Homo sapiens: one gene and its partners. The protein of the gene in region 1 interacts with the protein of each later gene in a pairwise test. Each region holds a gene or a part of one and is shown in the gene's direction. Other genes may lie near its edges.

Region 1 (3,654 bases):
TAGGCATGTGTTGGATGAACAGAGGACAAAGGATGAGAGCCAGGTTTGGAGGGAATAATTGGGCATAAGACATTTGAAGTGCTTATGAAACATGCTGGCCCAAGAGTCTAGTAGACAGCTGGCTATATGGGTCTGAAGCTCAGGAGAGAGGGCTAGGCTGGAGACATTGTTCCTGTAAAGACAGCCATGTGTTTTATGGAGACATACTATGCATAAAGAGATGTCATCATGCAAATGTGATTATGTGATTGTGGAACTGGACTGTGTTAGACAGAATCAAAATGGCATCCCAAATAATGTCTCCTCCCCCGCCAGGCCTTGTCCACCCACAACAGGAAGGGAGTTTGGAATCAGGACAGAGAGTAGAGGGTCCCACTGGAATCCACAGCCACCTTCCAATTGTCCCACTTTAAGAGCACTAACACTTGTAACAGAATCTGAAGTATAGTTGCCAGTCTCCCTGTTCAAACTCCAGTCTTCTTCATCTGAATGCTGGGCACTGATTCCTACACTAGTGCTTGGACTTGACTGCCCCCCGGCCCTCCGAGCAGGCCTTGATCTTTGGGCCTCACCTCCTGCTTTTTTAATGTATCCTGCTACTCCAGACAGAATTCGGAACTCCTCTAGTGGAATCCTGGCTCCCGCCCACCTGCATTGTGACTGCCTATACCTTGCTCTCTCAACAAAGCCTCCCTGGTGTAAGGGGGCACTGGCACTACAGGCAATCAGCATCAAGACAGAAGAAGCAAAGCCAAAAGCCACATCTAGACAGGCTTTAGATCCTGACAGACTATGGGTAAGACAAGAAAACTTAATCTGAGGCACGGAATTGTGAATTGTGGCCCTGACCACAGTCAAAGACCAGATGATGCCACTCTCCTTATTCATGTTATGGAACCTCAGGGTTATGCCTGAATACTGGCTCTCTCTTCCTCTTGAAGGAATGAGCTCAATTGTTTAATCAGGCAATCTACGTTCTCTCAGCAACCATTTTGTGCCAGGCCTTGTGCTAGGATGAGAGATACGGGTGAAAAGACAGCTCCCTTGAAGAACTCATGGACTAATAGGAATACAAGGGAATGATCTATTATAATGCAGTGTACTGCAACAGGAGTAGCACAAGGAGCTATGGATGGCAATAGGAGGGGCCCAGACAGACAGGGGAAGTCAGGGACACCTTTTTGGTGGAGGTGACATTTCAGTTGAGCCTTTAATTGGGACTAAGAATCCTACACCTGGCAGTCCCACTGCATGGGGCCTCATACAGGATTCTTGGCTAGAAGTTGGGGTACTCTCAGTTCTCATGGAGAATGAGAAAATCTGAATTGGAGGTGCCATCTGGTTATCCTCCCTCAGTTGCACAGCACCACCCTCACCTCAAGACTAGTCACGAAGCCAGGGATTCAGACCTCACTGCTGAACACCAGCTCTCGAGGGTTGTGACCTCTTGCTGGTGCCTACTCTCAGGGACACTTCTTAGCCTCACTTTCCTTTCCACGCCTCCTTGCTTAGCCTCAAAATATATAATTTTTGGTCTTCACCACTCATGACTGCTACCTACCCCTTTCTCCTGACCCTTGAAGAACCTTTGGCAGCCCTTCTTAGGTACACAGAGAGCATTGGTACAATAGCACCAGGAACACAGAGGGAGGTATTAAGGTACCAACGTGGAGACGTGAGAGGAAGCCCTCCTCCTACCTTCCAGCACCAGAGCTATCCAACCTCCTTCTCCTCTTCAGGACCTTCAATAAATATGCTCCTTAGGAGCCAATCCCATTGTCTGTACATCTGGCCAATCATCTTCCCTTTCCCTCACCTTAGACACTTCAAGAAAACAAAGCAAAGTTGGGCTTTAGTGGGATGAGGAGAGGAGATGAGAATCCCTGTGGTCACAGAGAACTCAGTGAGATTCATGTTCATCCTCAAACAAAATTTCATCTATAATCTTCCTGCTCAGAAACCACTCTCTTGAGTCATCTCTGGCAGGCTGACAAAGATGGAGTAGATCCTGGGTAGGAAGAGAACTGAAGACACTTCTGGGGTAATGAGAAAACCCTGAGGAAAAAGAAAATCTAAGGGGTAGAGGTGAGGACTTCCAGGTGGAGATAAAGATACCTGGGGGTGGGGAGAGGTAAGTTCCCCCCACCCCCTCACCTCCATCAAGGGATAGGTAAGAACACTTCGGGGGAGCTTAGAATTTTTTTACTTCTCACTTTTAATCCTGCATACCTAGGTCTCTACATTGGCTGGCGCTGCCCCCATTACCTATGGGACTGTTTCCGGATTGGGGATGAGTCCAGATGCTTTTGTGGACACTTGTTGAGAGAGCACCGGATCATCTCAGGTAGGGGAGAACTGACCAGCCCCTCTCGAGTGTGGAGGAATAACTGTACTCTGTCATGTCTTGGGAAGTATGAGAGAGAGCATGTGGCTGGGCACGGTGGCTCACCCCTGTAATCCCAGCACTTTGGGAGGCGGAGGCGGGTGGATCAAAGGTCAGGAGATCGAGACCATCCTGGCTAACACAGTGAAACACCGTCTCTACTAAAAAATAAATAAATAAATACAAAAAATTTAGCCAGGCATGGTGGCACGCACCTGTAGTCCCAGCTACTCAGGAGGCTGAGGCAGGAGAGTCACTTGAAGCCAGGAGGCGGAAGTTGCAGTGAACTGAGATCATGCCACTGCACTCCAGCCTGGGCGACAGAGCAAAACTCCATCTCAAAAAAAAAAAAAGCATGTCTGCGTGCATAGGGGGTGGTGGGGATGGAGGATGGGGTTGGCATGAGAAGGCAAGGTCCTATCAGATTAACCCTACCATCCATCCCCAATCCCACAGACATATCGGTGCCCTGCAAGGTAAGCCAGTGCCGCTGCTTCATGTTCTGCTTTATCCCATCACGCCCAGAGGAGGTGGGTGAGTTCTGGCTCAAGAGACGGGCCACCTTTGACCCCAAGGCCTGGAGGGCCCAATGTCGCTGCAAACACAGCCACGAAGAACATGCAGCCACTGGGCCCCATCCCTGCAGGCATCATGGTAACTTCTAGGGCAAGAGGTGTATTGGGAGCAGGGTAGGTGGGGATAGGATGCAATCTGGGGATAATGATGGAGAGCAGGTATGAGAGCCTTGGGCATGCGGTCACTGAGGAAGAGATGAGAATGTGGTCAGCTCCTGGGGATACCACCATTTCCTAAACTCTTCTTGGCTGCACTTTTGCCCCAGGCTGTTGCTGCGGCTGTTTTGAGTCTAATTTCCTCTGTGCGGCCTGTGACCGGCGCTGGGAGGAACACGAGACTTTCTTTGACACCCAGAAGACCCGGCAACGAGGAGGAAGGCCTCGCGGTGAGGCAGAAACCTGGGACAGGGGGCCATTCCAGGGTCTGTAGTCAGAAGGCCAGGCAGGAAGGCACTCCCATCCTCAACCATCCCTTCCAGGACTAGCGCGCTCCCTCAGCCCACCTCCCCACCACCCACCTACCTGCATCCCACATCTGCACTGGTTTTCACCCCCAGGAGCAGACTATGTACCTTTTGCAGAGATGGCTGTGCTCCGAGAAGCCATCCTCAGCAACTCTGACTTCTAGGCCCTGCAGATACAGGGGCCCTCTGGCCTTCCCAGCTCCCACCCTAGTCCCCCGGGGCTCCCTGGTTC
Region 2 (2,946 bases), on another chromosome or scaffold:
GCCAGGATGGTCTCTATCTCCTGACATTGTGATCCGCCCGCCTCGGCCTCCCAAAGTGTTGGGATTACAGGCGTGAGCCACAGCCCCCGGCCCATAGTTTTCCTTTTAAGAAGAAGGATTGGAACGAGGATACTGCTCTGCCACAAACTAGAAGACCCCTACAACCCTGGATCCACAGCTGTTTGCAGCCGATCCTCATGCAAATTGCCAACAGATACAGGTGGGAGGTGAACCAGGGACATCTGGACAAGAGGCGCACAATCTCAGGCTTGAAGCACTGCTGAAATGAAATGACAGAGGGTGTTACAGCTGTGGCGTTGCTCACAACAAATGGCAATGTTAAAAAAAAAAAACTTTTCTGTGTCATAAAAAATAATTCAAGTATTTTTGATGTACTATTTCTAAAAGAAACACCAAGTTTTACTTCCATTTGTTCTACAGAAAATCATGTGGACAAAACCATTGTCATGTGTAGAGATGATCAAAGACCGACTATGCAACCAAAAAATGTAGAAAAAGATTATAGATGAGGATGATGATAAAGGTATATTATTGTCTTGATTTTGTGACATCTTGGGTTTTGTTAACTATGGAAGTTTTTATTCTAAGTTAATATCCATGTTTATATCTATTATTATATTCCTAATATTGTGTTTTTAATGAGGATCTCCAAATTATACTTTTCAACACCACAAAACCTAAATCCACCTCTTTAAAGAGGGCTGGGACAGAGTCACGAAAAACATAGAAGCTGGTGTTACCCCGCAAATGCTCAGAAGGCAGTCAACATTTTGAGGTGGGGGTTTAGAGGTGTTGTAGACAGGTAGGCTCCAGAACACTTACAAATATGAATGCATCATACAAAAGTCATCAAATAAGTTTATTTGAAAGCATTTTGATTTGCTTTTAGGATGGAGTCCTGAGCATCCTTCTGCTATTGTGACTACTCTGACTTGTTTCCTACCTCATCTCAGCAGTGTCTTCTACTTTCCTTTTTTTCACATGGGTCCTTATTGTTGTATTTGTATTTATTTATTTTTTGCTTTTGTTTTGATTTCTTTTTTCTAAATACTAATTTTTTAAAAAAATTTGTTCAAGATGATATCTATGTCTAGTTATCTCTCAATTCCTTTGGCTTACTTTTATATAGGCCCTCGAGACTGGACTTACAAGCACTGATTATAGTAAATAACAGATGGCAAACTATTTTGGAGAGTGTGAACAATAAGATTTCTGCCTCTAGGCCACTGACAAAAAAAGATGAATACATTGCTATCCCCACCCAAGACAGAAAGAATTTCCCAGCCAAAACAGGAGCAGATGTATAAATCATGGGCAGAGAAAATAAGAGGGGTTTTCCTGGACATAATGGAGTAGGGACTAATCACATACTGTCATAGCATTTGTAACATAAATGCATTTCATTGACGCAGAGCTGTAAAAACAAAAGGAGTTCTTCCATAAATATAAGATGAAGGGTGTTAGTTAACTGCAATGACAAAGAAGATTACTAAGTTGCTTATATGAAATGTGGGAGCTTAAATGTGTGAAGGATGACCCTGTAAGGTGCCACACCCACGGCTGAACGTATATAAATGGTCCTGTCCAGATGTGGCATGCAAACTCAGAATCTTCTCAGTGTAACTCAGCTGAACTCACATCTCCCATCAACATGTCCTACAACTGCTGCTCTGGAAACTTCTCCTCCCGCTCCTGTGGTGGCTACCTGCACTACCCAGCCTCCTCCTGTGGCTTTTCCTACCCCAGCAACCAGGTCTACAGCACTGACCTCTGCTCTCCCAGCACGTGCCAGCTGGGTTCCTCTCTCTATAGGGGCTGTCAGCAGACCTGCTGGGAGCCCACCAGCTGCCAGACATCCTATGTGGAGTCCAGCCCCTGCCAGACCTCCTGCTACCGTCCCAGAACCTCCTTGCTCTGCAGTCCCTGCCAGACAACTTACTCTGGGTCTCTAGGCTTTGGATCCAGCAGCTGCCGCTCCCTGGGCTATGGATCGAGGAGCTGCTACTCAGTGGGCTGTGGGTCCAGTGGCTTCAGATCCCTGGGTTATGGAGGCTGTGGCTTCCCTTCCCTGGGCTATGGCGTTGGATTCTGCCGCCCAACCTACTTGGCTTCTAGGAGCTGCCAGTCTTCTTGCTACAGACCAACTTGTGGATCAGGCTTCTACTATTGATCATCTTGTTAAATTGCTGATTTTGTTGGCTAATGCCTTCAATGCCTCTACTCATAACCTTTATTGTCTTCATCATGTACAGAAAGAATTAGCCTCTTATTCTATAATTATCAAGTTCTCAGTTTGTCTTTGTCCCCAAATACTGGCTGGCAGGCTTCATCTGAAAAACTGTAATTGGAGAACTAGCTCAAAATAAATCTTGAAATACACATTAAAAGTAGAATTTATATTATTCGATTTTCTTCCACAATTGTATAAAAAGTCAAATCATTTTAATCCAATAAATCCATTGGTCTCATATTCAGCTATGTTTGTGGTGGTTTTATATTGCTAGGGTTTTGGTTGTGATGTATTAGGCAATTATTATGAAACAATTGGTGTATATATATAGGAATAGGTTTCAAAATCATATGAAGTTTGCGATTCAGACAAACTTTTGGGGGCCTCAGAGATTTTTGTTATTCAAACTACAGGTAGTGGAAGTCTACTAAATTTACAGACTTTTATTCATTAAAATATCAGAATCAGGAATTAGCTTGATCCCCTTATAAAATGTGGATTCTTGTGTCTATGCCAACAAGCATAAGGTAGCAAACTAGTTGATAGTTATATCAGGAATCTGCAGAGAAAAAAATACTATTTAGAACAATATGGTTATAGATATACATAAAAGAAAAATGGAATTGAAGAGAAACAAAAGTGATTTGAAGTAACTTTTGAAGTCACCCAATATTTGTTGGTAATCATGATCAAAT
Region 3 (3,654 bases), on another chromosome or scaffold:
TTTCAACAGTTTCCCGAAAGTTTGGGAACTGATCTAGAAGGTGGGGAGCTTGCCTAGGTTTTGCTGTTCAGTTCTAGGTCCGGATGCATGCTGGGGCTGGACCTTGCATTATTAGTGTCACTGCAAATGACCCTGCAGATGGCCCCTTTCATGCTTGTCTCCAAATTTGAGTAAAAAATGTAGACACACACACACACACACACACACACACACACACACACATATCTTCAAGGGACCAGTTTTTTTCACTGCAGTCTTTTGTTTTACAGCTGCGGAAACTGGGGCCCAAGGTCATGTGGGTTAGGACTGGGATCCAGGACTCAAAGTGTTTCCTCTAAAATTCTGGTGCTCCTTAGGGTTGAGGGTGGTGGATGAGTGCTGGACAGGGGGAGGGGAGGGGACAGGACTGAGGTCGGATGCCTGTGTTTCAGCCCGGGCAGTGAGTGTGGATGGCTTGGCAGGTGAGCCTGCCAGAGCTGGAGGACCGGCTTCAGTGTCCCATCTGCCTGGAGGTCTTCAAGGAGCCCCTGATGCTGCAGTGTGGCCACTCTTACTGCAAGGGCTGCCTGGTTTCCCTGTCCTGCCACCTGGATGCCGAGCTGCGCTGCCCCGTGTGCCGGCAGGCGGTGGACGGCAGCAGCTCCCTGCCCAACGTCTCCCTGGCCAGGGTGATCGAAGCCCTGAGGCTCCCTGGGGACCCGGAGCCCAAGGTCTGCGTGCACCACCGGAACCCGCTCAGCCTTTTCTGCGAGAAGGACCAGGAGCTCATCTGTGGCCTCTGCGGTCTGCTGGGCTCCCACCAACACCACCCGGTCACGCCCGTCTCCACCGTCTACAGCCGCATGAAGGTGGGGAGTGAGGGTGCAGGGGCGGCTGGAGAGGCCCGCGGGGACCAGATCCTGTGCTCTCTGGTGCCATCACCTGGCACCAAAAGGATCCAGCTATCCTCGATTTCCCTGCAGCTGTGCCCTGGCGCATTCATTCCTTAGCGTTTGAGCTGCAGCTCAACCCAGGTGCCGGGGATTGAAGCCACACGAACAGGATGGGAGCTCCCTGGTGTCACGTGCTCACCCCTTCCTGTTTTTTTATTTGCAGTTCTGGTTTGTTCCTTTTTCTTTTCTTCCTTCTCCTTCCCTCTTCCCTCTTCCCTCTTCCTCTCCCTCTCCCTCTCTCCTTTCTTTTTTTTCTTTCTTTTTGGAGACAGCGTCTCACTCTGTTGCCCAGGCTGGAGTGCAGTGGTGTGATCATGGCTCACTGCAGCCTCCAACTCCTAGGCTGAAGCAATCCTCCCACCTCAGCCTCCCGAGCAGCTGGGGCTACAGGTGCACACCACCATGCCCAGCTCATTTTTCATATTTTGTAGAAATGGGGTCTTGTTATGTTGCCCAGGCTGGTGTTGAACTCCTTGGCCTCCAATGATCCTCCTGCCTGGGCCTCCCAAAGTGCTGGAATTATAGGCATGCACCACTGCCCTAGGCCCCTTGTTTGTGTCTGGACACTCCCCTGTTTGCACTCTATGGTGCATGAGGGTGGGGACTTCATTTTGTCCCCTGGTGTATTTCAGTGCCTGGAGCCATGCCTGGCACATTGTAAATGTCCAAAATGCTGAATCAGTGAATTCCTGCCTTTATAGGCCATCACCAAACCTAGCAGATCATTCTTTAAGACGAGTAATAATAATACCTGGCTGGCTGTTATATATATAAAACACCTGTTATAAAACACGTGACTGGGTGGCTTATGCCTATAATAACAGCACTTTGGGAGGCCGAGGTGGGTGGATCACTTGAGTCCAGGAGTTTGAGACCAGCCTGGGCAACATAGTGAGACCCTGCCTCTACAAAAGTTTCAAAATTAGCCTTGTTGGCCAGGCACAGTGGCCACTCCTGTAATCCCAGCATAAGGCTGGAGGGAACATCGGTGGGGGTGAGATAGGGCCAGCGAGGTAAGCTGCGGCTGGGGCATGGAGAGGCCAGTGTGACCCGGGAAGGGATTTGGAGTTTATTCACAGGATGAGGGAGCAAGGCGGAGGCTGGAGGGTTTTAAGCCAGTGATGAAATGCTCAGATCTCTCTGGCAGAGGGGAGCTTTGAGGGTGAGGCAAAAGGACAGTGAGAGATGAAGGTGCCAGGACCTAAGTCGATGGGAACTGGGACAAAGGCCTGGGGCAGACCAAAGACAAATTTCAAACAGAAAAAAACCCTGACAACTGTGTGTGGCAAGGAGGGTGAGGGACGGGAAGGTTGACTCCAGCTCTGTGATTCCCCCTTGCACAGAGGAAATGATCGCAGGGGAGGATCCGGCGTGGGCAGGTGGAGCCGGAGGTGCCTGGATATGTGCAGTCGGGTCGAGGGGTGTGCAGACCAGGACAGCGGTGGGGCTCAGGGCGAGAGGTGTGGAGGGTCCTTCCTCCTGGTGGTCACTGAAGTCCCCTTTGGTGGAGAAGACCAACCCAGGAGAGTCTACATAGTGATAAGGGAAGACACTGATGATGACCCCAAGGGGTACCAGGCTTAAAATCTGGATTGAGAGAGAGCCCTGAAAAAAGGGATAGAAAGAATCCTCAGAGCGGGAACACCAGCTGAGTGTGGCCTCCCGGAAATCAGAGAGACAGAGACTGAAGGAGATCACGTGTGTGAAATGTCTCTGAGGACTGAAAAGTGTTAGATGTAGCAGTAAGAACTGATTATCTTGGCAAGAGCAGGTTTAGGGGAGTATGGAAGGTGGAAGCTGACTGCAGGTGAGGAAGCCGAGTTTATGTTTTATTAGTTAATGGGAAGGAGGGAGGGAAACAGGCTGGGAGCTTATCTGTCCTTTGTGGTTAGGATCCAGCAGCCCAGCTTGGGTCCCTGTTTTAGATTTGGGCTTAATTTTGTTGTTGTTGTTGTTGAGACAGAGTCTCGCTCTGTCGCCCAGGCTGGAGCGCAGTGGTGCGATCTCGGCTCACTGCAAGCTCCGCCTCCCGGGTTCACGCCATTCTCCTGCCTCAGCCTCCCAAGTAGCTGGGACTACAGGCGCCCACCACCATGCCCGGCTAATTTTTTGTATTTTTAGTAGAGGCGGGGTTTCACCGTGTTAGCCAGGATGGTCTCGATCTCCTGACCTCGTGATCCACCCGCGTCAGCCTCCCAAAGAGTTGGGATTCCAGGTGTGAGCCACTGTACCCGGCCAGATTTGGGGTTTGATGATCCCGAGGCTCTTCTCTGTTGCAACACAGAATACAACTAAATTGCACTCCTTTATTGCCCTCTTTTAGGTGTTCCCGTTGCCTCCTGTTTATTGAGATTTTGAGATGCTCGATTGATGGGTGCATTGATTTGCATAACTTAGTTCCTCTCACGGGGAAGGAATGAGTCCCGTCTGTCTGCCTGGGGAGAGTGACATTGGAATGTCGTTCTTGGGCCGCTGTGAAATATTCTGATGCCTCGTTCTCCAGAGCAAGGACTCTGTCCGTTTATGCCAGCAAGTGCTTGATTCTTTACGCAACTCCCTTCCTGAAAGCCCCTTGCAGCTCTCTGGTGCTTGGGCACGATCCAAGCCAAAAATTCTGTATATTGCATGGGTACAAACCGACGGGGGCTCTGGTCAAATCGTGCAGTAGATGGTGGTCCAGGGGTCCCGGTTGGCACCCCCAAGGCTAGGTCAGGTTTGGGGC

The links.
Region 2: the proteins of FAM221B (region 1) and KRTAP13-1 interact in a two-hybrid assay, tested with the Homo sapiens proteins (one large-scale study listed by BioGRID).
Region 3: the proteins of FAM221B (region 1) and TRIM50 interact in binary tests that used the Homo sapiens proteins (3 or more experiments, as listed by UniProt).

The regions. Positions count from the first base shown.
Region 1 is NC_000009.12:35,818,580-35,822,233, reverse strand, and holds part of FAM221B (protein FAM221B), read left to right. Parts: intron 1-605; exon of another isoform or gene 606-792; coding exon of another isoform or gene 793-796; intron 797-2,233; coding exon 2,234-2,344; intron 2,345-2,839; coding exon 2,840-3,037; intron 3,038-3,224; coding exon 3,225-3,344; coding exon of another isoform or gene 3,345-3,388; exon of another isoform or gene 3,389-3,654.
Region 2 is NC_000021.9:30,394,415-30,397,360, forward strand, and holds KRTAP13-1 (keratin-associated protein 13-1), read left to right. Parts: upstream 1-1,616; 5' UTR 1,617-1,672; coding exon 1,673-2,191; 3' UTR 2,192-2,408; downstream 2,409-2,946. UniProt on the Homo sapiens protein: In the hair cortex, hair keratin intermediate filaments are embedded in an interfilamentous matrix, consisting of hair keratin-associated proteins (KRTAP), which are essential for the formation of a rigid and resistant hair shaft through their extensive disulfide bond cross-linking with abundant cysteine residues of hair keratins.
Region 3 is NC_000007.14:73,321,583-73,325,236, reverse strand, and holds part of TRIM50 (E3 ubiquitin-protein ligase TRIM50), read left to right. Parts: intron 1-431; 5' UTR 432-449; coding exon 450-848; intron 849-3,654. UniProt on the Homo sapiens protein: E3 ubiquitin-protein ligase that ubiquitinates Beclin-1/BECN1 in a 'Lys-63'-dependent manner enhancing its binding to ULK1. In turn, promotes starvation-induced autophagy activation.